3 separate regions of the Homo sapiens genome follow, and regions 2 and 3 are each linked to region 1. The links come from fine-mapping of genetic effects on plasma protein levels. A gene starts in region 1. Each other region holds a variant in brackets. All regions are shown on one strand. Distances are between the middles of the regions.

Region 1 (8,181 bases):
AACATAAGAAACTTATTTTTCAAGAACTTTTTTTAAAGTTACAGAAAAAATTCATCCACCCATCCATCCCTTCAATCATTCATTCAGCACTGAGTGCTGTGGGAGGAGGAACACTGCCTGCCCTGCTGCTGCACACACTCCCGTGAGGAAGGCGGTACACCCCTACACTAAGAAGGCACGTGTGGTGGCGTCCAGTGCTGAGTGGCGGAGAACATGAATAGGATAAGGGGAGGAGGGGAGAGGAGGGGAAGCGGAGGCAGGGCAAGCTAGGAGTGCAGCCAGGGAGGGCCTCACTGAAGGGAAGCCACTGAGCCACGAAGCACCTTTCTCCTAAGGATGCTCAAGAGAAATGCAGACCCACGATCCCTCCCCTGCATTCGTGAAACCCATAAAAGCCTGAAACCTGGTAGTTTTTTGTAATTCATTTGGCAACAAAACATAACCTGAACTAGCATAACGCTATTTATCGTTACTACCCCAACTCAGTTTTTAGACTTCACTTGCTTCTCTGCAGAATTTGTGTCATTTGATTTTAGGGTGCTACTTCAGATGCCACCAGGACTGTTAACTTGAACACGGTATGTGCACTGCATCATGAATGTTATTCACGACATGGTATGCACACAGCACTGCATCACACGTGTTACCCAGAACCTGGGGCCACACTGGATCACAAACCTGAACACCGTGAAACTCATCTGACTCTAAGACTTCAAAGAAGCCACTGTGGAGCGGCAGCTTATTCATGGCAGTAGGCCTCTAGCCAGAACTGCAAGACTTAACGAGACTGAAGTAAAAAGAGCAGCTTGCAAAAAATGCACATGGAAAAAGCCAGCAGCAACACAGGATATAAGTCAAGCAGACACTTCAGGATAAATCAAATTTTAGAAGGGAAGATTCCAAGTAAGAAGATCAAGTTGTCACACATTAGCTTTTGTAAATAATTGAGTCCTGTTGAATTTGTATAGAATTTACAGTTAAGATGGTATGAAAACTTAGTTGTACATTGGAACTAATTATGCAAGCTCTCAGTATAAAAGGAAAAAAGGGTTCAAGCGTGGTGGCTCACACCTATAATCCCAGCACTTTGGGAGGCAGAGGCAGGAGGATTGCTTGAGCTCAGGAGTTCAAGACCAGCCTGGGCAACATGGTGAAACCCTGTCTCTACAAAAATTAGCCAGGTGTGGTGGCATGAACCTGTAGTCCCAGCTACTTGGAAGGCGCTGAGGCAAGAGGATAGCTTAAGCCCAGGAGGTGGAAGATGCAGTGAGCCCAGATCACATCACTGCACTCCAACCTGGGCTACACAGCCAGACCCTGTCTCAAAAAAAAAAAAAAAGGATGAGCTGCAGGGTGAGAATTGGAGCTGGTAAAGCATTTTTTACCCTTGGGTGAAAAACCTTATTTTACATAGTCGGAACCTGAGGCTGGAAAGCTTAGCAACACCCAGGAAGATGAGACTATCAATATGCTTACAACAAAACTACCAAGACTCAGACGTTTGTAACAAACTCTCCATCTAAAACCAGGCAGAGTGATGTGACTGCAGGAGACCCCCTCCCACACAGATGCCCCCCTCCCCTATTCACGGAGAAAGTAATGGAGAAGCTAAAGAAAGTCAAAGAAGAAAGAAAAATCACCAAGGTCTCAAAACCAGTTAGAACTTGGGAAAATGCCCGCTGACCTATGAAGCCCTCGTGGTCTGAATCAACCATGTTCTCGCAAATCTTGCCTGCTCAAGTTTGTCCGATCATATCAGTTGCATGAATTATGGGCTGGGGTGGGGGATCCACATATGACAGCCTGTTTTATGCTAATGTTTACTTCCAGCCAGACATCATTCCAAGTTACATTCTGTACCTTAACTGATTTCTCCTGAAGCCAACTCTGTGAGGCTGACTGTTACTATTTCTACTTTACAGATGAGGAAACTGGGGCATAGAGAGCTCAAAGGTCCCACACCTGGGTGTGAACTAGCAGTTTCCACTCAGCCAGCAAGGGCCAGCATGCCACAGACTTCCCCAGTGAGAGGCTCTGAACCTCATGGCCAATAAATAAGGACATAAATGTAGCTCTTTTTCAGAAAATACACTTTCCGGAACACTGAAATATAATGCTACATTTTAATGTACATGATTAAAAATATATACCTAAGGTGTTTAAAAAGTAAAACCCTGGCCGGGTGCAGTGGCTCACGCCTGTAATCCCAGCACTTTGGGAGGCCGAGGCGGGCGGATCACCTGAGGTCAGAAGTTCGAGACCAGCCTGGCTATTAAAAATACAAAAATTAGCCAGGCGTGGTGGTGTGCATCTGTAATCCCACCTACTCAGAGGCTGAGGCAGGAGAATCGCTTGAACCCGGGAGGTGGAGGTTGCAGTGAGCTGAGGTCACGCCACTGTACTCCAGCCTGAGTGACAGAGTAAGACTGTCTAAAAAAAAATAAATAAGTAAAACCCACCTTTTCCACACCTACTATGTAAGTAAGAAATCCTATTAACCCGATCATTACCCAAATAGAAAGAAATAATATGGTATTCAAATATTGGTATCTTCCACAGAATTAAAGTTGGAGTTCTTTGCAGCACCGCCTGTTTACCCCTAATTAATTTGGGCGGCTGCCACACACACACACGCACACACGCACGCACACACGCACGCACACACGCGCACACACGCACGCACGCACACACACGCACACACGCACACACACACACGCGCACACACGACACACACGCACAGACGCGCACACACGACACACACGCACACACACGCACGCACGCACACGCACACGCACGCACACACACACGCACACACAAACGCACACGCACACACACACACGCGCACACACACACGCGCACACACACACACACGCGGAGGGCGAGCCAAGGGAAGGGATTCAGAACAGGATACTCAAAAAGAGGAAGAACCGTCGTTTCACCACCCGCCGCAGTGAAAGCTGAAATTAAGTGTCCCCTCCACGACTTCTTCGACCTCTGAGAGAACTTCGAGTGCAGGAACAGTGCTCCACCAAGCCTGCCACCTGCTTTGTCGCGTCCTAGGCTGGGAGCAGTCTGTGGGATGAGTTTCCAGTCCAGCTCCAGGCTGGAGTGTACCCAGGACCTCACCCTACCCCCTACTCCTTCCCAGGGGTCACCCCGGGGAGTGTTCAGGGCTCCCCAACCCACTTCTTCCCAGGAGTCACCCCAGAGCGTGCCCAGGGCTCCCCCCAACCCACTCCTTCCCAGAGGTCACCCCGGGGCGTGCTCAGGACTCCCCTCATCGCACTCCTTCCCAGAGGTCACTTCTGAGTGTGCTAAGGGCTCCCCCCAACCCACTCCCTCCAGGGGTCACCCCGAGGCGTGCTCAACTTCCCAACTTCTTCCCAGGGGTCACCCCGGAGCGTGCTCGGCTCCCCCCGCCCTCCCCAGTCGCTGCCCGGGGCTCAGCGACCGCCGACCCCGAGAGCTGCAGCCTTCACCCAGTGGAAAGCTCTAGGGCCCGGCTCCCACGCTCCCCACTTTACCTCGCAAGGTAACTCACCGCAGGCGCTTGTCCGCACCGCCCAGGCAAAGCAACGCCAGGCAGAGGCAGCCCAGCAGGGCCCCGCGCAGGGCTGCAGGGCGCATGGTGCCGACCTGCGGAGAGAACGCTGCCAGCTGCCGCTCCGGCTCCCACTTCCCACCTGCTGCCCGAGGAAGACTTCCGGGAGAAACGCTGTCTCCGAGCCCCCGCGCCGCCGCGCTCCCTCCGCTGCAGCAGCGGCCACCGGGTGCGCCCGGAGCCCTGGGACGGCCTAAACCAGTATCTCGCGGGCCCCGCGCCGGGCTCCGGGAATGGCCGCAGCAGCCCTGGCGACCCGGGCCCCTCGGAGCTCCCCTTCAGGATCGTGCACCAAGCGCGCACGTCCCGGGCTCTGCTTCGCGACCCACAGCGACCCCAGCTCCTCCACGCTGCAGCCGCCGTCCGCCCACGACCACGGTCAGTCGCGTTGCTCCCAGCCCAGGGCGCCCTGCGGGCCTGCACCGGAGCAGAGAGCCACGCCCCCAGGACGGCACGCCCCCGCCGGTGGACACGCCCCCCAGAACGGCACGTCCCCGCCCGGCGTTCACGCCCCGCCCCGTGGTTGGCTCAGAGAGGCCGAGGCAGGAGCAGCTCCGCGGGCCTTGAGGGCGTGTCAGGCGGCTGTGTTCCTTCGCCACGCAGGCGCCCCGCGCCTTTTCCCGCAGCTCTGCGCCACTCCCACACTCCCGGGTCCGAGCTAACCTAGACCACCCGTGAGGACCGCCCTCGGGGGGACCGCCCGTGTCTGCGCCATCCCCCGCCAGCAAGTGGGCGTGCGGGCCCCAGGGCCACTCTACTCTCCAGGGACAGCCCCCAGCCCGACCCGCGCACCCTGCAGGCCCGCGGTCCGCACGCAGCACCCGCTTTCAAAAACTGCGCCCTGCAAGCTGCCCGGGAGCTCCTGACTGCAGATGGTGCTTGGCCGCCCAGGCTCCCCGCAGCCTCCCGCCACCTCGGCGCTCCACTGCGCAGCCCGAGGGACGGCTCCAGAATTAGGAGGGGACCTACTCGGGTCACTCTCCTGGAAACCTCTCCAGTCTCCCGGTGCTAGGTGCTGGGAGCACCAACATTCCTAGAAGGGCCTGGCCCTCACCCAGCCCTGGGCCTCACCTGCCCCTCCCCGCGGGCCCCAGGAGCCCGGAAGTCATCTCTGTGGGGGCAGCAAAGAGCCGCCTCGGGGCGCGACCTGGGAAGTCATCTTGTGAGGGATCCCCTCCCAGAGGGACGGGCCACCCCCCACGGATGAAGGGGACTTCATGTCAGCCCCACCTTGGCGTAGCCAGGGCCAGTCCCATAGGCCCGGTCTCCTCCCCCAACACCCTGGCCTTCCCAGCCCTTCAGAGGCACGGGTTCCCCTGCACCCGCGGCCCCGCCCACGGGCTGTGCACCCGGCATTGTCTCTGCAGATGTTTCTCCTCTTTCCCTTCCCTGTCCGCACACCCACAGCTAGTTAAGGCTATTCCTATTTACACGTCGAGTAAACTGCGCCTTCCTCGGGGTCCTCTGCCACTGGTAACTGTCTAAATAGCAGGTGGGCCTGTAGCCTGCTCTCCCACAGGCCTGGACCTTGCCTGCATGCATTACCATTCTTTGAAACAAAATATTTAAATGATTAATCTGTTTTTCCCACTAGACTGCAAGGCAAGGCCCATGTCTATTTTGCCCACCTTGAGTCCCTGCCACTGAGCACAGTGGATGGGGGACAGTCGGTGCTCAATAAAATGCCACCTGTGGAACAGATGGGGGGGGAAAATGGCTGACACCTCCTTAGCTCCTCCAGGACCTCCTACAGGTCATGGTGTTATTCTCGTTCTCCTTTTCCCTAACGACTTATTTGTTTCTTTCCGGCTCCTTTCATTCCTTCCTCTCAAGAATATAGGCACACGCCACAGTTCTTTTTCTCTTTTCTTTTAAGCTAAAAAAATAATTTTCTTAAAACAAAAGTGCTTCCCAGAATCCTCATTTTCCTTTAAATCACAGTCCGGTGTGTTTAAACAGCCCCTTGTCAAGGAGGGCTGTTGTGACCACTGCCAAATATAAAGCAAATCTGGACTCGGGGAGGAGTGGTGTTATGAGGACCATTATTGCAGGGGCCTGGGGGCCTTTTGTCCCTACTAAAAATACAAAAATTTGCTGGGCGGGGGTGGCACGCGACTGTAATCCTGTGGCAGGAGGAGCGGCAGACAAAACCTCTCAGACACCGAGCTATAGAAGGAAGGGCTTTATTCAGCTGGGAGCATCGGCAAGCTACTGCCTTAAAATCCGAGCTCCCCGAATGCACAATTTCTGTCCCTTTTAAGGGCTCACAACATTAAAGATTTCACATGAAAGGGTCGTGATTGATTTGAGCAAGCAAGGGGTACGTGACGGGCTGCATGCACTGGTGGTCAGAGAGAAACAGAACAGGGCAGGGAGTTTCACAATGTTCTTCTATACAATGTCTGGAATCTATGAATAACATCGGTCTCTAAGTCATGAGTTGATTTTTAACTACTAGGTTTAGGCCAGGCAGGCCCAGGTCCGGTTTTGGGCCTGGCGCCGGGCTGCCTGTCTTTGATTTCACTTCCTTGTTTTTTTCTTAAAACAGGTACTGAGTATAAAACAATATAAAACAATATGAGAGGGTCTCTCTCTTCCCTCAATCCCAGCTACTCTGGAGGCTGAGGCAGGAGAATCGCTTGAACCCAGGAGGCAGAGGTTGCAGTGAGCCGAGATCGCGCCACTGCACTCCAGCCTGGGCGACAGAGTGAGACTCGGTCAACAACAACAACAAAAAGAATGAATGAAAGAAAGAAGAAAGAGAGAAAAAGAAAGAGAGAGAAAGAATGAACTGGGAATGGAGAAGTGGGATGAGAACCTGCCTTCATAGGACATTAGATCAGAGAAGGTTGACCCCGTGGCCAGCCTGTTCTCAGGGGGGACTGACTCAGGCTAAGATGAGGCCAAAAGTCCTCAGCCTCGGGGGAAGAGAGGAGCCTCACCAAGTTTGCTTAACAAGTGTGTTATTTCTATTGACTGGCTCATCATTGATGAGGTGAAGAATGGGAATTGGAGGATCTGTGTCTGGCTTTGTCCTAGGTAATGGGTAGGGGGTGGAGTGAGGGGAGCATCCGTCACTTTTCCTTTTTTTTTTTTTTTTTTTGGAGACAGCGCCCAGCTGCATCACTTCTATCACTCTTACCTATGTTATGTGGGGAAGAAGGGGGTCTCTCGCAGCAAGCCACTTTCCACAACTCACAGAGAGGAGATTTTTATCAGATAAATTCAGCAGCGTCCTACCCAGCCTGAAGAAGCCACCCAGTCATTTCCTGTTGCACTTCCTTGTTTATTTTCGACACAGTTCTCCCCACCCCTGAGAATTCTTGTCACTTCCTCCTGTACTGCCCACTTCTACTCCCCCACCCCCACATCGGAAGCTAATGAGGAGCTTCAGGCCCCTTGCTGGCATGGGCCCCACCAAGACCCCATATCTCATTCCGTATTCACAATTTTACCTTCTTGTTCTTAAAGAAGGACATCCAAATGGAAAAGCTCTCAACCCCCCAAAACTTGGATGTGAACCTGGAGCATCTGTCATCTGTCTTGTTCACTACTTGTCCACCTACCAGGATCCTAAACGGAACCCTACGTAGGGAAGAGGCAGTGGCTGTAAAGGCTGGATTTGGGTCTGGAAGCCGCCCAGCTTTACGAAAACAAAGAGGGCTCCAGCATCAAGCAGGTGGGCAGGGGCCAGAGTGGGAATTACATTGACTCACACAACATAGTGTAAAAGGGTACAAACTATGAGGTTTAAAAGATGCTGCTGGCTTGTATAGAAACATGTCCTTAGGAGAGGGGAGGGGGACAGGATGGCAACAGCCATGTCTATGAACAGACATCCTTAAATCCTTGTTAATTCTGAAGAGACCAAGATACTTTCACCACACAACCTCTTCTTGGCATTAGCTCCAGGTTTCCTGTTTCCATGCCAGCTTTTGCTGGGTTATGCTACAATAATACACCGCCCCCAAATCTCAGTGTCTCACTTAAACGGAAGTTGATCATTTATCATTCATTTGCCCATATTCCATGCTGGCTATGCGTCAGATGCCACTGTGGTCCACGGTATTTTTCACTCTGGAACCCAGGCGGTAGGAACAGCCCATATCTGGTGCTGGCCATTCCAATGGCAGAGCAGTGGCACAACTACACAGTTTAGGATTCTCATGCTCTAAAGAGCTTTGTCACACTTGAAAGAATCTCACCTTAAAAACTCCTTTCCATCCTGAATTACTTATTTGCTGAGAAAGTGAGGCCAGCTGCTGGGTGTTTCCCTGCCCTTTCTCTTCTTTTTCTTTTTCTTTTTTTTTTTTTGAGACAGAGTCTCACTCTGTCAGCCAGGCTGGAGTGCAGTCAGTGGCACAATCTCGGCTCACAGCAACCTCCGTCTCCCAGGCTCAAACAATTCTCCTGCCCTAGCCTCCCGAGTAGCTGGGATTACAGGCGTGTGCCACCACGTCCGGCTAATTTTTGTGTTTTTAGTAGAGACGGAGTTTGACCATGTTGGTCAGGGTGTCCCAGCACCTCTGGCCTTGCCATGCCAGCCTGGCCACTGTGGTACACATTTTGTGGAACTCTTT
Region 2 (8,181 bases), 30 kb before region 1:
GTACATGACTTTTGATGTATGTTGTTATCTTTGGGCCACTGCTGACTATCTTTTCTCAATTCAGGTTAAATATTTTCAAAACACCTACTATGCTCAAGTAGCTGTGTTCAGTACTGGGGCAGCACGAGCAGCCCACATCTCAGGGTGCAGTCCAAGACATATGGTCATCAAGACAGAAGAGCAGATGGTGACAGGTACCAACCACCAAAGCTGTACACGCCAGGTTCAATGTCTTTGCTGGTAAAAATGGGCCACTGTCACTCTGCAGACTTTTCTCAGTGTTAAAAGCGGGTAGGAAAAGGTGATTGTGTAATTCTTGCTCCCTCAAATAAAGGGAATGTAAATGCATAAGAATGCACAGGTCTGAAATGTGAAAAGCACGTCAGCATAAAGTCCATACAGCATTTAATGGATCTTAACTTTATCCATCTCAAACTTTCTTTTGGAGATGGAGTCTCACTCTGTTGCCCAGGCTGGAGGGTGGAGCGCAGTGGCGCAATCTCCACTCACTGCAACCTCCAGCCTCCCAGAGGGCTGGGATTACAGGCGTGAGCCACCAGGCCCGGCCTTTTTTTTTTTTTTTTTTTTTGAGACAGAGTCTTACTCTGTTGCCCAAGCTTGAGTACAGTCTCGGCTCACTGCAGCCTCCACCTCCTGGGTTCAAGCCATCCTCTCACCTCAGCCTCCTGAGTAGCTGGGATTGCAGACACCCGCCACCACACCCAGCTAATGTATTTTTAGTAGAGATAGGGTTTCGTCCTGTTGGCCAGGGTGGTCTTGAACGCTTGACCTCAAGTGATCCGCCCACCTCGGCCTCCCAAGGTGCTAGGATTACAGGTATAAGCCACTGCGCCTGGCCCATCTCAAACTTTCTAATAACTATCATCTGAGCCTAAAATGCTAATTCTGTCTTTTTTGTCTAAAATAAATGGAAGGCCCATTACAGTCACTCAGAAAAAAAAAATAGAATTCTTATCAGAAAAAAAATGACATAAAACTGCATTTCTCATCATCTGTCAGAGATTTTGCTTCAGATAAGAAAACCCTCACTACTGCCCCTTCTATGGGAAACGTAGCTCATCCCATAAGCAATGCAATGGACTTCTTTTCTATAGACGCCCAAATACTGACTTCATATCTGTGATTGTATCCTGGTAATTTCATTTCAGGAGCTAGAGCTTGTGAGGAAAAGTAGTATTTTAACTTCTGAGTCTTTTCCAGCCTTCTGCAGTGATAGATCTAGCCAATATAGTTGAATTCTGAAAATATTTTACATTACAATTCTCAGCTGCCTTAGGACCTGCATTAAATTATTTTTATTCCTGATCCAAAGTTCGCAGAAACAAAAAGTGAAAACAGGCGATCTGCATGTTTCCTCATCTGGGCGTGGTGAGAAGCCAACAGCAGGCACCTTCCACTGGGACCAGTGCTGCATTCTCTTTTTTTCTTTTTTTGAAACGGAGTCTTGCTCTGTCATCCAGACTGGAGTGCAATGGTGTGATTTCGGCTCACTGCAACCTCTGCCTCCTGGCTTCAAGTGATTCATTCTCCTGCCTCAGCCTCCCGAGTAGCTGGGACTACAGGTGCCCGCCACCATGCCCGGCCAATTTTTGTATTTTTAGTAGAGATGGAGTTTCACCATACTGTCCAGGCTGGTCTCGAACTCCTGACCTTGGGATCCGCCTGCCTTGGCCTCCCAAAGTGCTGGTATTACAGGCATGAGCCACCACGCCCGGCCTCTCTTTTCTATTTTATTCATTTATTCACTCCATCACTAGAGAACACTGGCTTAGAGCTGATGTGCCTCAGACACAGGTGCACTCATGGAGCACAGAAGCGAGTTGGACAAAGTCCGGGCCTTTGTAGTGTGACGTGGCCATTAGGGCCCACAGATCCTTCCCTGCAGTTGCTGTCTCCCTTTCTTCAGGTTCCGAGGAAGCCTTCCCTGGCCGCCTTCATAACTCTGACCTCCTCCCTCCCTCCAACCTACCAGCATCAAATGCACCAGCTATGCTCCTCTTTTCCCTTGCCGTCTGTTGCCCTGCACTTTGGGAGGCTGAGGCAGGTGGATCACCCGAGGTCGGGAGTTTGAGACCAGCGTGACCAACATGGAGAAAACCCATCTCTACTAAAAATACAAAATTAGCCGGGCATGGTGGCATATGCCACCACTCTTGGAGTGGGCCCAAGAGGAAAAGATCCCTGCTTATGGCCATGTCCCAGTGCCTAGAAGAGAGGCGGCTCATAGGAAGGGTTGAAAAAAGTGTGGAATGAATCAATAAACAGCTCTTGATTTAGTGGCAGGAGAAGTACAGGCCTCACCTCCACCGCGCAGGCCTCATCTACGCCATCCAGCCCTCACCCACAGTGTCCAGACCTCACTTCTCCCACCCAGGCCTCTACCCAGTCATCTAGGCATTCTCCCTGCCGTCTAGCCCAAAACCGGAACAGCACAGCCCTCACCTCTGCTGCCCAGGCCTCATCTACGCCATCCAGCCCTCACTCCTGCCGCCCAGCCCTCACTCCTGCCGCCCAGCCCTCACCTCTGCTGTCCAGGCATCACCCTTGCTGTCCAGCCGACACCTACGATGCGCAGTCCATGTCTCCGCTGCCCAGGCCTCATCTATGCCACTTAGCCCTCACCCATGCCATCTAGCCCTCACTCAAGCCACCCAGCTCTCACTTCCTCCATCCAGGCATCATTCCTGCCACCCAGGCCTCATCTACACTGCCTAGCCCTCACCTCCCCTGTCCAGCCCGTCCTCACCTACACTGCACAGCCCTCACCTCTGCCACCCAGGCCTCATCTATACTGCCCAGCCCTCACCTCCCCTGTCCAGCCCTCACCTCCCCGGTCCAGCCCTTGCCTCCCCCGTCCAGCCCTCACCTCCATCATGCAGCCACTGTCTCTGCTGTCCAGTCCTCACCTATGCCACATTGTCCGCATCTACACTGTACGGCCCTCCCCTGTGCCATCCAGCTGGCATCTTCTATGTAACACAACAAGAGCTGGAAGAGAAGAGGCCCTGGTCCCTGGGCGTGGAGGCGCAGAGCCACCCAGGACTGCAAAAGAACTCTTAACGGCCAACCATGGAACTGGGTGTTGATATCCCATGGAACTTGCTAAACTAGGTGAGCAGAAGAGCACTCCAGGCCACCCAAACTGCGCGGAGAATCCAGGCACAAGGAAGTGCTAAGCAGAGCCCTCATGGGCTGTGGGGAGTGGGTGGAGGCACTGCCAACAGGGCAGGAGGGATTGAGGGAATGTCCCTGAGCCGCCATACTGGGGAGGTGTGATCTGGGAGCAGAGAGCCATGGTTGGTTACGGAGAGTGGCACAAACACGGTGCCAGCGTCCAGCACTGACAGTCAGGTGGCGTGGCAGTCAATGCATGGCCCAGATGGGAGACTGAGGCTTGAACTAAGTCAGTAATGAGAAGGATAAGCTGAATATAATTCAGAATACTTTCACAATTTAGGCAAAATTTTTTTAAAAAGTTTCCAGTTCACTTTGAGGTTTCTACCTGGAATAAGCGGATGGTGATGTCATTCACCGAGATGGAGGCAAAAGTTTCGGTGGAAAGATAAGATACCTGGGCCAGGCGCGGTGGCTCACACCTATAATCCTAGCACTCTGGGAGGCTGAGGCAGGCAGATCACCTGAGGTCAGGAGTTCCAGACCAGCCTGGCCAACACAGTGAAACCCCAACTCTACTAAAAATACAAAAAATAGCCGGGCATGGTGGCGTGCCTAGTCCCAGCTACTCGGGAGGCTGAGGCAGAAGAATTGCTTGAACCCAGGAGACAGAGGTTGCAGTGAGCCGAGATCGCACCACTGCACTCCAGCCTGGGCGACAGAGTGAGACTCAGTCTCAAAAAAAAAAAAAAAGAAAAGAAAAGAAAAGATATCTAGTTCTGAATATGATACAATTGCTACTGTTAGTTATTCAAGCGCATAATGATCTCCCACTACTAGCTTGGAGAGAGGGATTGCTTTCCAGGTGACAAAGCATTGTCCCCTCCCAGGCCAAGAGAAATGCTCTTGGGTACAGCAATAGCCCTGCTGAGAAGGGGCTGGTCTGAAGGAGTTTCATGGGAACCTGGTTTTCTTGTCTCGCTTTTACCTATGGTGTCTTTTTCCACCATAAGTTCCACTCATCCCTGTGGCCTAGTCCACGGGTCCTCTTTTCCATGGTGCCGCAGAGATGCTCCAGGCAGACGCCTGCTCTGGCTGAGACCCGGGCCAGCTGCCCCTCCTGGCTGCTCTCCATCCTGAGATGCGCCTGCTCCTTTGTCCCCCTGGGAGACACTTGTACCCCCAGCTCTGATCCCAGAGCCTGGCCTGCTCCTCCTTCCACACATACGAGCCTGAGACCCCGCTCACATGGGAGGCATTTCTCAGTCACCTCCGCCCAGTTACAGCGAGAACCGTGTGGTCAGAGTTGCATCTTCCTGAGTTGAATCTGGAAAATGCACGACCTACTTGTTTAATGATGTAAAAACATGTGCTTGGATCTGATCTCCATCACTGAACCTTAAACGCAGAGTCTTCCCCTTCTGTCTCCTGCGGCTCATAAGTGCCTTATACTTACATGATCTGAGGCAGGTTATCAAACGCTCATGTTCTACCTGCTCCTGAGCTCTAGGCCAAAATAGGAATATTAAGAGAGCCAAGCATTTGCTTGTGCTCATGTTTTGAACCATCCAGCCCCTCACCAGTGCCTTCTTCCATTTAGCTGACGTGACAATGGCAGGAAACCAGCACTCCGCAGCCCATGCCTCCCACCAGGATGCTACCTTGTTGGCGTCCCCATCCGCTCTCAAATGCTCACACTCATATAATAAATACACGCTACTTAAAAAAAAGAATGGCTTCTTTAAAAACCGCAAAGGCCAGCCGACTGCAGACAGCCTCTGAAGAGCTGCTTTCCTTGACCCCCCAAGGCTATAAAATAAATGCAATTTGAATAGGAAGTCTGTTCAAATTCACCAGCTCCTCTGGGAATAATGAAGATAAAACCCAAGCCTTGATCCCTGTGTTCGCAAAATGACTCAAAAAAAAAAAAAAAAAAAAAAAGAATTGACATCATTTAAAGGACTCTGAGGCTTAAGAGTCCAACTCTAAAGTACACCCACTCCCTGAGGACGCAGAGCAAATGCAGGAAATCACGCCCTTCCAGGTGCAAAACAAATCAGATCTTGTCCCTCTCACAGGCATCAAAACACAAATCATCAGTTCCCGACAGAAACAAATCCTGCCCTGCCAAGCCAACAGAAAAACACTGGAGACAGAAATGAGCTCAGAGAAGGGCCGAGGGACAATGACAAGGTGGGGACCCTGGACCCTTGGGCTCCGCTAGCCTTCCCCACAGCTTGCAGAAGAGGGCTCAGCTCCTCCATTACAGAAGAGACAAAATACAGGGACTGCTTCCATCAAATCCCCCATCATCTCACTCTGTCTGTCTGCAGAAGCTGTCAGGCCTGGCTGGGTGCTGCCTGTCTCAGGCTCTTACTGCAGAGCTTGTTTCCAGAGGGCCAGAGGCCGTCCTGTGTCTCCTTTAATGCCTGCGGGGGACGCAGAGGCCACTGAGTCTAGGATCAGGACTGCGACACCTACTTTCTCACCGTCCCATCTGCCTGGTAAACCTTTGTCTCTCTCTGAACATTCTGCATTTCAGACTGTCTTGTAGACACCATGAAGTGAGGTTTTGGTTTGAGCCAATTTGAAAATCTCTTCTTTAAATGGGCGAGTAAAGCCGAATATTCACAGGCATTGATACAGCTGTTTTTTTTTTTTTTGTAAATTATGCTGACAATATGGTTATTCTAAGGATTAAATATTTCACGTGTTGAACACAATGCCTGGCACATAGTAAGTTCTATTTTAAATGTATATTGAATAAAACATAAATAGGACGTTAATGTGATTAAGACAAACAGAGAAAAGGATTTAAAGAGAGAAGAGGCCAGGAGACGCGGGAGAAGACAATGCTAACAGGTTGTCTTAACAACACATGGAAAGCTCCTCACTGCACAGCCCCCAGATGCCTCACTCCACGAGTGAAATCCCTGCACGGCAGGCCGAGAGCGTGGGTGCAGCAGTCTGCCTGACGTGAGAGCCATGTCATCACATATCTAGAAGGTAAGGGTACCTCCGGTTCTGGAACACACAATGTAGGCACATTTCGCTGGGGGCTCCATGTACATTTCTAAATAGATACCAGTGCAGGGACCTGGCTACCCTCTGATAAGAAGGAAGTGAGGCCTGACAGAAACTGACCTTCCAGTAACCTGGAAGAGACTGCTCTGACGGAGACAGGAGATGGCTGCTCTGTGAATACACCCAAATCTCCTAGGGCAGGAGGGGCAAAGTCACCGTTCTAGGACACACCTGTGACCACACCAGGCCTCCAACAACGGAGCAGCTGGCTAAGGAACGATGTCCTGGGGCTCTGGTCACATGGAACAGACCCAGTCTGAGCTAGAGACACCCCCCAGGCCCACCAGGCATCAGCGTGGGCTCCTGCCATGCGTGGAGCTCTTCGTCTTGACAGGGTCCCTGCGCCAAGAAGGCAACAGGCTCCGAGGGGAAAACTCGAGCAAGAGAGTCCCCTGAATCGGTGCCATCTGTCTAAATTCCAAGTATGCCTGCCTGATCTACCAGGGCACTGAAGAGTTTAATAGAGAAAAAAAAAAACAATCTGTGAGCTTTATCCCAAGCACAAAACAGCCACTCAGGCGTGGGAGAGCTCCTTTCTCCCCGTGTACGCCACATGCACTCACTCTACAGGGACCACAACATCCAATTCACAGGCATGGAGGGGAAACAGCAAAATAAACAGACTTCACTTTGGAGTTGTTTTTTAGAAAGCTGCAGTTTGTGAATTTCTCTTGCTTTTTAAAACAGAATATTTCCAAAACTTGGGCATCAATGCTTGGTCTTTTTAGGTGGGGGATAGAAGACTGGGCCATCTTCACAGACTCTCAGACCCC[G/A]GCTCTCGGCGGCCCCATTTGCCAGCCAGACTTCCTGCTTGGGGGACGGCTGCTCCCCCGGCTCGGTGCAGTTTTGCAGCTGCTGGTCTTGCTTAGTGAGGCACAGTTCTATCTGACCAATTGTCTGTACTTCCTCATCCTAAAAGTAAACAATGAAAGACGCTTTAGAATTCAGATCTTGGATTATCATCAAGGTCTTAAGATCATGAACTTTTAGAACTTTTAGAAGATAACAAAAGCAGAGGCTCCACACCACAGGTTCTAGGTTCCAAGAACGGACCCCTTCATTGAGCAGAAGGCTGCTGTGCACTAAATTGGAAGGAGTGGCCCCAGGTGACTCGCCTGTGGGCAGTGGAGCTGGGCTTGGGGGTTGGATCCCCTGGTCACCACCAGAGGCCAGCCTGGTGCCCTGGTGAAAAGCCTCTGCTTTTATGTTAGAGAAAATTAACAAAGTTACACACAGATACAACAGCACTCAACATATCTATCAAGATATTAGGAGAAGAAATGGCTTTTGTAGGCCAAAAGGGCAACAGTACCCTATTGCTAAAAGAACAGGTATATTCTTGTTAAAGATAAGCAAGAAGACAAACCCTGTCCTAGCATGCTGTCAAGAAACCATGCTTGCTCACACACAGCACATGCTCACACAGACACACATGCATGCTCACATACACAGATGTGCAGGCCTGTGCACACATGCAGAACATGCCCATATGTGCACACATACACACAGTACATGAACATGTTCATATGCACATTCACACAGAGGCACAGGCCCATGCACACACACAGCACATACCCACATGCATGTACACACACACACACACGCACATGCCCACACAGCACGTTCACATGCATGCACACATTCACACATGCACACACATGCCCACATGCATGTTCACACAGAGAACATGCACACACATGCACACACACAGCACATGCACACATGCATGTACATGCACACACAGCACATGCCCACATAATGTACACACTTGCACACACAGCACATGCGCACATGTATACTCATGCGCATACAGCACATGCACACATGCATGTACATGCACACACAGCACATGCCCACATAATGTACACACATGCACACACAGGACATGCACACACATGCACACATAGCACATGCCCACATGCATGTACACACACATGCACACATAGCACATGCCCACATGCA
Region 3 (8,181 bases), 75 kb after region 1:
GTTCTATGGAGCAGAAGTTGGTAAGCCTGCCATGTAAGTACATTCATTCCTATGGAAGTAAGAGTGTCGATGTGAACATTACCGAGCCCTGGGCCATATGTTGAGAGCACATTTCTCATTCAGTGTTCTGTTCTGTGCAAGACTGTAGCAGTGTGACAGGCATACTTTAGGCAAACTCATTTATGTAAAGGCAAACTTGGTGACCTGAAGGAAACGGTGCAGCCAGGTTCTCAATGGCCACTTCCTATGCTCTCTGTGGATGTGATGGGATCCCTTCCTGGTCTGTAATCACTCACATGGAAGCATTGGAAGAGCTTCACAGGCAGGTTAGGGAGAAAGAAAGGTGTGTCCCCATTTGCTTTTAAAACCCAGCCCTGTCCAAGGGGCAGCTCCGAGAATGCCCTTCCCTCTTCTGGAGAGACATTCTGGATAGTGCAAAGAACTTGGGCTTGGAGTTGGATAGAAGTGACATCTCAGATGTGGCACTGATTGATGGGTAGCGTAGGGAGATAAACTAAACTGCTATTTCCTCATCTGTTAAGTGGAACTAATAACATCTGCCTTGTTTTAAAGAGTAAATAGGATTTAAATATCTCTTCATATGTAAATTAAAGTACAGTGGCTGGCATGGTAGGTGCCTAGTAAATGTTAGTTTTCTTTTTACGTTACTTTTCCCCCCATTTGCAGAAGAATAAATGTTCCCTGAGCTGCCCGGATTCTTGTTCCGCACAGTGCCCTGGAGTCCTGGTAACTGAGTTGCTGGTTGTGCTGCCATCTGCTCTTTGTGCGTCCTGGTTGCTGGCTGGCCAGCTAGGTGGGCCTGCCTCCTTTCCCTCCCTTGTGCTTTTCCTGTCAGCTGTGGTCATGGTTGCCATTAGATGTTCTTTTCCACTAAATCTCAGTGGCTAACTGCCACCAGAGACTTTACTCCTGACCTCTGCACCGTGATGGCCGCCTTGTCCCCTTTGTGTTCTGTTTTTTTCACTTTTGTGGTGTTTCACTCTGTTGCCAAACCTTTTAGCTTTTTTCTCTGACTGCTCTATTCTCTTACCAAAGCGAGGGTTTTCCCTCCTGTTTCTGAGTGGGGAGCTGCCGAGAATTGTCATCCTCAGGAGGGAATGTCGTTGCTGGGGCTGCAGAGTTGCTGGGTACAGGCAGGAGGGTGGTGTGCTCCTTCACTTCACTTTGTCTTGGGACTTAGGCATATCTCGGGTTGGAATTGGGGTAGTTATGCAGGTGAGAACTACCAGTTCACTAGCTGGATGTTTGTCATTTAGCTAGGCATTAGGATTCAGTAGAAATAAAGTTTTATTTCGTTTTGCAACAATGTTGTTTTCTGTTTGGGTTGTTTACATTTTAAATATACAGTACTCTAGGTATTTTGAGTAATATGTAGACAGATGTTAGTGGACCAGCCTAGGAGAATAATGATGTTAGTGGTAAGTGCCTGGCACTGTACCAAGGAATTATTTTATTTAATTCATATCCTATGAGGTAGGTTTTATTACTATCTCCATTTTTACAGATGAAGAATCTAGGTTAAGTAACTTGCCCAAGGTCATGCTGCTTTTAGAGTCCTGATGCATCACACAGAGCCCTCACCACTGTGTTTTACTGCCTGTATGTTATTTAGACATATTGAAATAATCATTTCAATGGGAACATAAATTCTGAGTTCCAAATAAATAATCTACAAATAAAGCTTTAGAGCACCATCTATTTTAGTTTGGCAGACAAATATTAATTAAAGGTGCCCAAAAGGAGTGTTTATAGATAGGTACTTTGCATATTTAAAGCAAGAGTTGCTAAGCTTTTTCCGTAAAGGGCCAAATAGTCTATATTTTAGGGTTTGTGGATGGCATGTACTGTCTCTCACATAGTCTTTGTGTGTTTTTTTGTTTTTTTGTTTTTTAACAATCTTTAAAAATGTAAAAGCCATTCTTAGTTCACAGGCTGAACAAAAGCAGGTCATCAGCCAGAGGCAAGAATGAAAGTAAGGAAAGCAGAAGGCTGTCAGGAAGTCCGGGCCAAAGATGACTGGGGTAAGGGCAGATAAGACAGAGGGTATGGGATGGGGAGGAGAGACTGTCAAAAAATGAAGAAAACAAGAATCCTTGGCCTGAGGGCCAAAATTTGCTGACCCTTAAAGTAATGTAGTACAGGTTGAGTATCCCTTAATGCAAATGCTTGGGACCAGAAGTATTTCAGAGTCTGGATTTTTTTGGATTTTGAAATGTTTGCATTTTTCTTACCAGATGAGCATCCCAAATCTGAAAATCTGAAAGTCCGAAATGCTCCAATGAGCAGTTTCTCTGAGCATTACGTCCCCACTCAGAAAGTTCTGGATTTTATTCAAGTTTGGTTTTCAAATTTTTGAATTTGGGATGCTTAACCTGTATGTATTCTGTTAATCATTTTGACACTGGCTTAAATTATTGTAATACTAAACAATACATAACCAAGAAGTCAGAATCTGATGTGTTATAGCACATTATTCAGTAAATATCTTTGTCTCATGTGTCTGTCTGAAGAGACCACCAAACAGTCTTTGTGTGAGCAACATGGCTGTTTATTTCACCTGGGTGCAGGCAGGCTGAGTCCGAAAAGAGAGTCAGCAAAGGGTTGTGGATTATCATTAGTTCTTACAGGTTTTGGGATAGGTGGTGGAGTTAAGAGCAATGTTTTGAGGGAAGGGGTTGGATCTTACAAAGTACATTCTCAAGGGTGGGGAGAACTACAAAGAACCTTCTTAAGCATGGGGGAGATTATAAAGAACCTTCTTAAGGGTGGGGGAGATTACAAAGTACATTGATCAGTTAGGGTAGGGCAGAAACAAATCACAATGGTGGAATGTCATCAGTTAAGGCTATTTTCACTTCTTTTGTGGATCTTCAATTGCTTCAGGCCATCTGGATGTACACGTGCAGGACACTGGGGATATGATGGCTTAGCTTGGGCTCAGAGGCCTGACAATCTTGTGTTTTGAATTGGCTACAAATGCTGCCAGGTGGGGAATCCAGTTAGCTTTCTTTAAATCCACATTGCAGCCACAGCCGTCCTCGCTGTCTCAGCTCAGTGTCCACCTCTGCTCTCCTCACTGGCCTTCACACATAGGAACACTACAATGGGTCCTTGGAGGCTGACATTTTAGTAGCTGCCACTCCTGGTTTTACTTAGCGCTTGCAAACCAGCCACATATGTAGTTTGTTTAATCAGATTTCCACTTCTCCTTCTCGGCCCTGACAGTGCC[T/C]GGTTTCTGGCAAGCACTTGCAGCCCTTTAACCTTTGAGGCTACAGTGGAGACGAGCTCTTGATTCTCAAGAGGAGAGGAAGCTCCTGACATGTCCCTCCTGACTGCTTATGATCAGGGATTTCCAGTTCATTACTGGGCAAGGTTTGGATGTAGCAGGAACAAGGACTCATGTTTTCTTCGTTTGCTGATATTCTTCCCACCCCATATCATCTACCCGTCTGTCTTATCTGTGGGACACCTGCCTTGACCCAAGCCTTTTACCCCTGTTCTCTTTGGCCTGGACTTTCTGACAGCCTTCTGCTTTCCTTACTTTCATTGTTGCCTCCTGTACACATATTTCTTCTGGCGGTGGTACGATTATCTCTGGGAAAACAGAAGTGAGGTAGTGCTACCCTGCACTTTTTCACTCCTGTCTTCCCCCACCCCACCCCATCCCTTTGTACAAAGCTTCCCTTTGTATTCAGGCTAAGATCCTTATTGCAACCAACCAAGCCCTAATGATCCGGCTTCTGCCAACCCTTCTGATCGCCACTCCTTTTTTCTTCCTCCACCCATTCTGTCCCCCAAATTCATTGTTTTATGGTTGTATGGCTTCCTTACTGGTGGTTTTTACATTTTTTTTGAGACAGTATTTTAAAAATTAAAATTTAAAAAATAAAATAAATTTTTAATTTTTGAGGGGGTCTTGCAATGTTGCCCAGGCTGGTCTCAAACTCCTGGGTGCAAGTGATCCTCCTGCCTTGGCCTCCCAAGTAGCTGGATTACAGATGTGCGTCACTGCTCTGGGCTGCACTGGTGGTTTTTCAAACCACCGCACCCTCCCCCACCTCAGGGCCTTTCACATGTTTCCTCTTGGAACACACTGTCCCCAGTAATTTGTACCTCTGCAACCTAGGTTTCCACTCAGTTGCTACCTTGGAGTTCTTCCCAATTGCACTAGCAGTATTTGGTTTGTTCCACTGTTCCTCTTCACTAGAGTGTTTGCTCCCTGAGATCAGAGATACCATCTTAGTCATTGCTATACCTCTAGGGGACCTAGTCATCACTCAGCTGGTTGATAAATTAATCATATGATTTGGCTGTAAGAGAATTACATTGTCTAACTGTCTGGACAGAGCTTGAATCCCCTCAGCAGTCTGACCGATTTAGAGACAGTCCAGCCTTATCTGAGGGAAGATCGAGGACAAGGCCCGCAGGGTCTTTGAACGGCTCTCTGTCATGCCAGGTCTTCTTTTTGTGATCTGCATCTTCTGCATGTGGCTGTACATGCTTCCTGGGTCTTTCATAGGCCATCCATTCACATTTTAAGTTGGCTCTCATGTGCCTCCAAGTCTGCTTTGAGGCTGACAACTCTTTTTCCTCATCTAGCCCTCAGAAGTCCTGGGAGGGAAGGGCTGCTGATTTGCAAATTTGTCCTTTATAGCCTTAAGTTGATCTGAAGGTGCCCCCTCTGTCAGAGGCTTGTGGTGCACTTTGAGAAACTGGTAACACTGCCTCACTATTCACCATCCCACCTTCATTCAGTTGCCTTTTATTAAGATCTTACTGTGGACCAAGGTCTCTGTTAAGCACATCATGTACCTGAATCCTTATGTTAACTCTGATTGGTGTGGCTTTGGCTGTACGTCAGAGCAGAGGACATGGCCCAGAAAGGGCACCTCACATTCCCAGGTCACAGAGCTGTTGAGTGGCAGGTCTGAGGCCTGAGCCTGGCTCTGTCTGACTGAAGGTGCCCTTATTTGCTGTGCTTCATGGCCTCTTCACACCTCATGAGTGTTTTTTAACTTTTATAACAAAACAATTAGCATGTTGAAAACGCTCAGTAGTTCATCTAGTACCTAGAGGGGATTGATGATGACTTGCTATTGCTATACGCCATTAAGTCAAGGGACCTTATTAATGGTGAGTGTGCCCCATGTTAATTGCCTTAGAGTACCCGGAGTAAAGATGAGGTGTTAACCACATTTTATAGTCACTTGTAACAGTTTATTATTTCTTAGGTATTTCATTTGTCATTTGTCTTCATATTATATATGCTTAAAATGTTATTTCTAGTCTGGGACTTTTTAAATGATGCAATATAATTAATTTTTTTTAAGGAAATGTGTGTTTAATGGTAGGTAAATTGTGACGCACATTAGATATAACATATCTTTTCTTAAACTTATCAGGAACTGGAGAAGATGATGACTATGTTGATGATTTTAATAGGTAAGAAAAACTATTGGGCAAATATATAAATATATACGTTATTTGTAAACAATTTCCGAACACAGACAAGACAAAATTACATTTGGTGCTTATTTTAATGTATTTGATTCTGTTGTTCATATTGATTGAAGATGAAGAAAAGATAGTTAATCCAAAATTAAATATTTGATTTTAGAGCATGTTTTTGATTTTACATTAGAATATAGACAGTCACATTATGTTCAGGAAACTTGGTAAGAAGAAGAGAAACAATTGAAGAATTAACTGAGAAGTCATTTAGAAGCAGTTCAGTTGCCGTGTCATAAGTGCTGATTTTCTCTTCCTTCCATACCTTTTTGTGGCGGGAATTGTCTCAAAATTGACCTAAAATAATTATGCTCTCAAATTAGTTTTTTGATTCAGATCACATTTCCTAATATGTGGATATGTGGTCTGCCCTAATAAGATTGCCATTCTCTTTTTTTTTTTTTTTTTTTTTTTTTTTTTGAGACAGAGTCTCACTCTGTTGCCCACGCTGGAGTGCAGTGGTGCGATCTGGGCTCACTGCAACCTCCTTCTCCCGGGTTCAAGCCATTCTCCTGCCTCAGCTTCCCATGTAGCTGGGATTATAGGTGCGTGCCACTACGCCTGGCTAATTTTTGTATTTTTGGTAGAGACAGGGTTTTGTCGTGTTGGCCAGGCTGGTCTCGAACTCCTGACCTCGTGATCCACCCACCTGGGCCTCCCAAAGTGCTGGGATTACAGACGAGAACCACCATGCCCTGTCGATTCCTTTCTTATACACAGAAAGATAATATGTAATGTAGAAGTAATATTTGTTGTGGATATGATTCGAAATTTTAAATTAGATGCCTGAGAATTTTATTTAATTGACAGGTTATCTTTCCAATTGGAAGTCTGTATTTTTTTTTATAATTTATTATACAGTTTTTGAGAAAGAGCATGATGTAGTAGATGAAATTGTAAAAATCTGGGTTTGTTTCTTTCTTGCTATTGTGACCAAAGTCACTGCTTTGAACCTTTGTCTCCTCATCTGTTACATTGACTTGACTGCTGCTGCCCTTGCTACATTATTTTAAGGGTCAAGCAAGACAATATGTATGAAATTAATTATAGTTAATATTATATTTTACTTAAAGGATTAAAAGAAATATCTGAATGTTTAAAGAATAGTAATCTCTTTAAATGTTTATTTTCAGAGTTCTTATTTTTTTTTCCCCTTCTGAAATTAGTACCAGCCATCGCTCAGAGAAAAGTGAGATAAGTATTGGTGAAGAGATAGAAGAAGACCTTTCTGTGGAAATAGATGACATCAATACCAGTGATAAGGTATGGTGTTCTGCATTTCCCATAGAGTGCTTTTTTTTTTTAACCTATTTGTCGATTTACTGTAAAGCTTCAAAATTCATACTAATTAGTAGAAAAACAGTTGAAAATTATGAAAAGTCATGACAGAGACCTGGCTCGAGTTTATAAAGAATGTCTTTGATGAATGTGTAAGATTGGTTTTGGTTGTCACTTCCTTTGGTATGCAAGTCTCGCTGCTGAAATGCCTGAGGATTATTCCTGGGGCACTGGGATTGCTGTGGATTAAGAGGGATCAGGGTGGGTCAGGCTTAGTGAGAATTGACCACCTGGTGCCATAGGTGGAAGTCAGTATAGGGTACTGTGATCACAGGAGGAAGCTGAGCCTGGAGTGCAGAGAGTGTGGTCATCTTGGCCAGTTGTGACATCTGAACAGGCAAGCCAGACTGGGCTAAAATCCACAGGAGACAAGACAGTAGGCCATAAAGTTAGAGTCCGTATTTGAGATCCAAACTTTACCTTTTTATGTGGGTGGAGAACAGAAGATCCTTCGATGGTGAGCTGTAGCATTGCAGGGTCACCTGTCAGTACCCACTTCAAGCTGTCCCCAGCTCAGAGGAGTCTACCAGTCAGGTTGGAGGTTGCCATGGCTGGGTGGGGACTTGCTTTCCAGAACATGGTGGGATTCTCCAAGCGCTGTGATTGTCACACAGGGAGAAGGCCTTTGAGAGAGGTAGCGTTTACAATGCAACCACACAATCTAAGTCAGCAGCATCCGTGTTTGCATTCTTATTCTTTCATATATTTTCTTATTTAAGCTTTAACCTTTGACTCTCAGTTTCTTTACTTGTAAGATGGAAGTATTAATACCTATGTGATAGGATTATTTTGAAGGTTAAATGATAATATATAAAGCACTTCTCTAATTCCTGATGTATTATATACCCTTATAATTATAAATTTAGCTTTCTCTTTTCACCCTGCATCATCCTAAAGAGGCCTGAAGAATGTTGCTTTAAAGTTATACCAAAGAAACTATGAAGGATTCTTTAAATATGAGGGAGAGGACTCGAAGAAATGACTGTTAAACTAGGATTTGTGAAATGACGTGGGTTGAAGAGGAGGTGTGGCATCCCTTTGCCATTGGGGGCCTTGGATGGCGTCCAGGAGTCTGGGCTTTGTTAGACTGCTTCTCACTGGGTCCTACTCACTGGGTTTGGCACATCAATGTTCCTAGGAGTTTTCACTTAAAAGCTTAAATTTAGATAATTTTGCCATTTACATAGATTGGACTTTGACAGTCACTGTACTTCATCAGGAAGCATTTTCTAAAGCCTTCTGTGTAGAGAATTGCTACTGGGCACCTGGGGAACACAAAAGCATTTGTATTCTTTGCAGTAAGAATACAGCAGA

Direction of the effects. Alleles are on the strand shown, and positions count from the first base shown. The strength of an association depends on the size of the effect and on how common the allele is. Not every link is listed here.
With allele T in place of C in region 3, the plasma level of the protein whose gene starts at base 3,995 in region 1 is higher (weak association).

The links. PIP is the chance, under the fine-mapping model, that this variant and not a neighbour inherited with it causes the effect. The UK Biobank Pharma Proteomics Project read protein levels with antibody pairs (Olink). The fine-mapping took linkage between variants from a reference panel, not from the people measured, so its PIPs are less certain.
Region 2: its variant is fine-mapped to the plasma level of the RNASET2 protein (UK Biobank, PIP 0.98). The variant lies in the coding sequence of RNASET2. If it changes the protein, the assay may bind it differently, which can mimic a change of level.
Region 3: its variant is fine-mapped to the plasma level of the RNASET2 protein (UK Biobank, PIP above 0.99).

Annotation. Positions count from the first base shown.
Region 1 is chr6:166,952,556-166,960,736 of GRCh38, forward strand. It overlaps RNASET2 (ribonuclease T2), which reads right to left and starts at 3,995. Exons shown (of 9, transcript NM_003730.6): 1 at 3,542-3,995. The coding sequence starts at 3,627. RefSeq lists silencers at 3,761-4,520, 4,561-4,660, 4,931-4,980, an enhancer at 5,945-6,064 and a cis regulatory region at 6,745-7,031.
Region 2 is chr6:166,922,661-166,930,841 of GRCh38, forward strand. It overlaps RNASET2 (ribonuclease T2), which reads right to left. Exons shown (of 9, transcript NM_003730.6): 9 at 1-7,131. The coding sequence ends at 6,928. Among named protein-coding and RNA genes, the nearest start is that of RPS6KA2-AS1, 23 kb to the left of the region's middle. The variant G/A (reference allele first, on the strand shown) is at 6,993.
Region 3 is chr6:167,027,180-167,035,360 of GRCh38, forward strand. It overlaps CEP43 (centrosomal protein 43), which reads left to right. Exons shown (of 13, transcript NM_007045.4): 11 at 5,424-5,463; 12 at 6,696-6,792. Among named protein-coding and RNA genes, the nearest start is that of CEP43, 32 kb to the left of the region's middle. The variant T/C (reference allele first, on the strand shown) is at 3,251.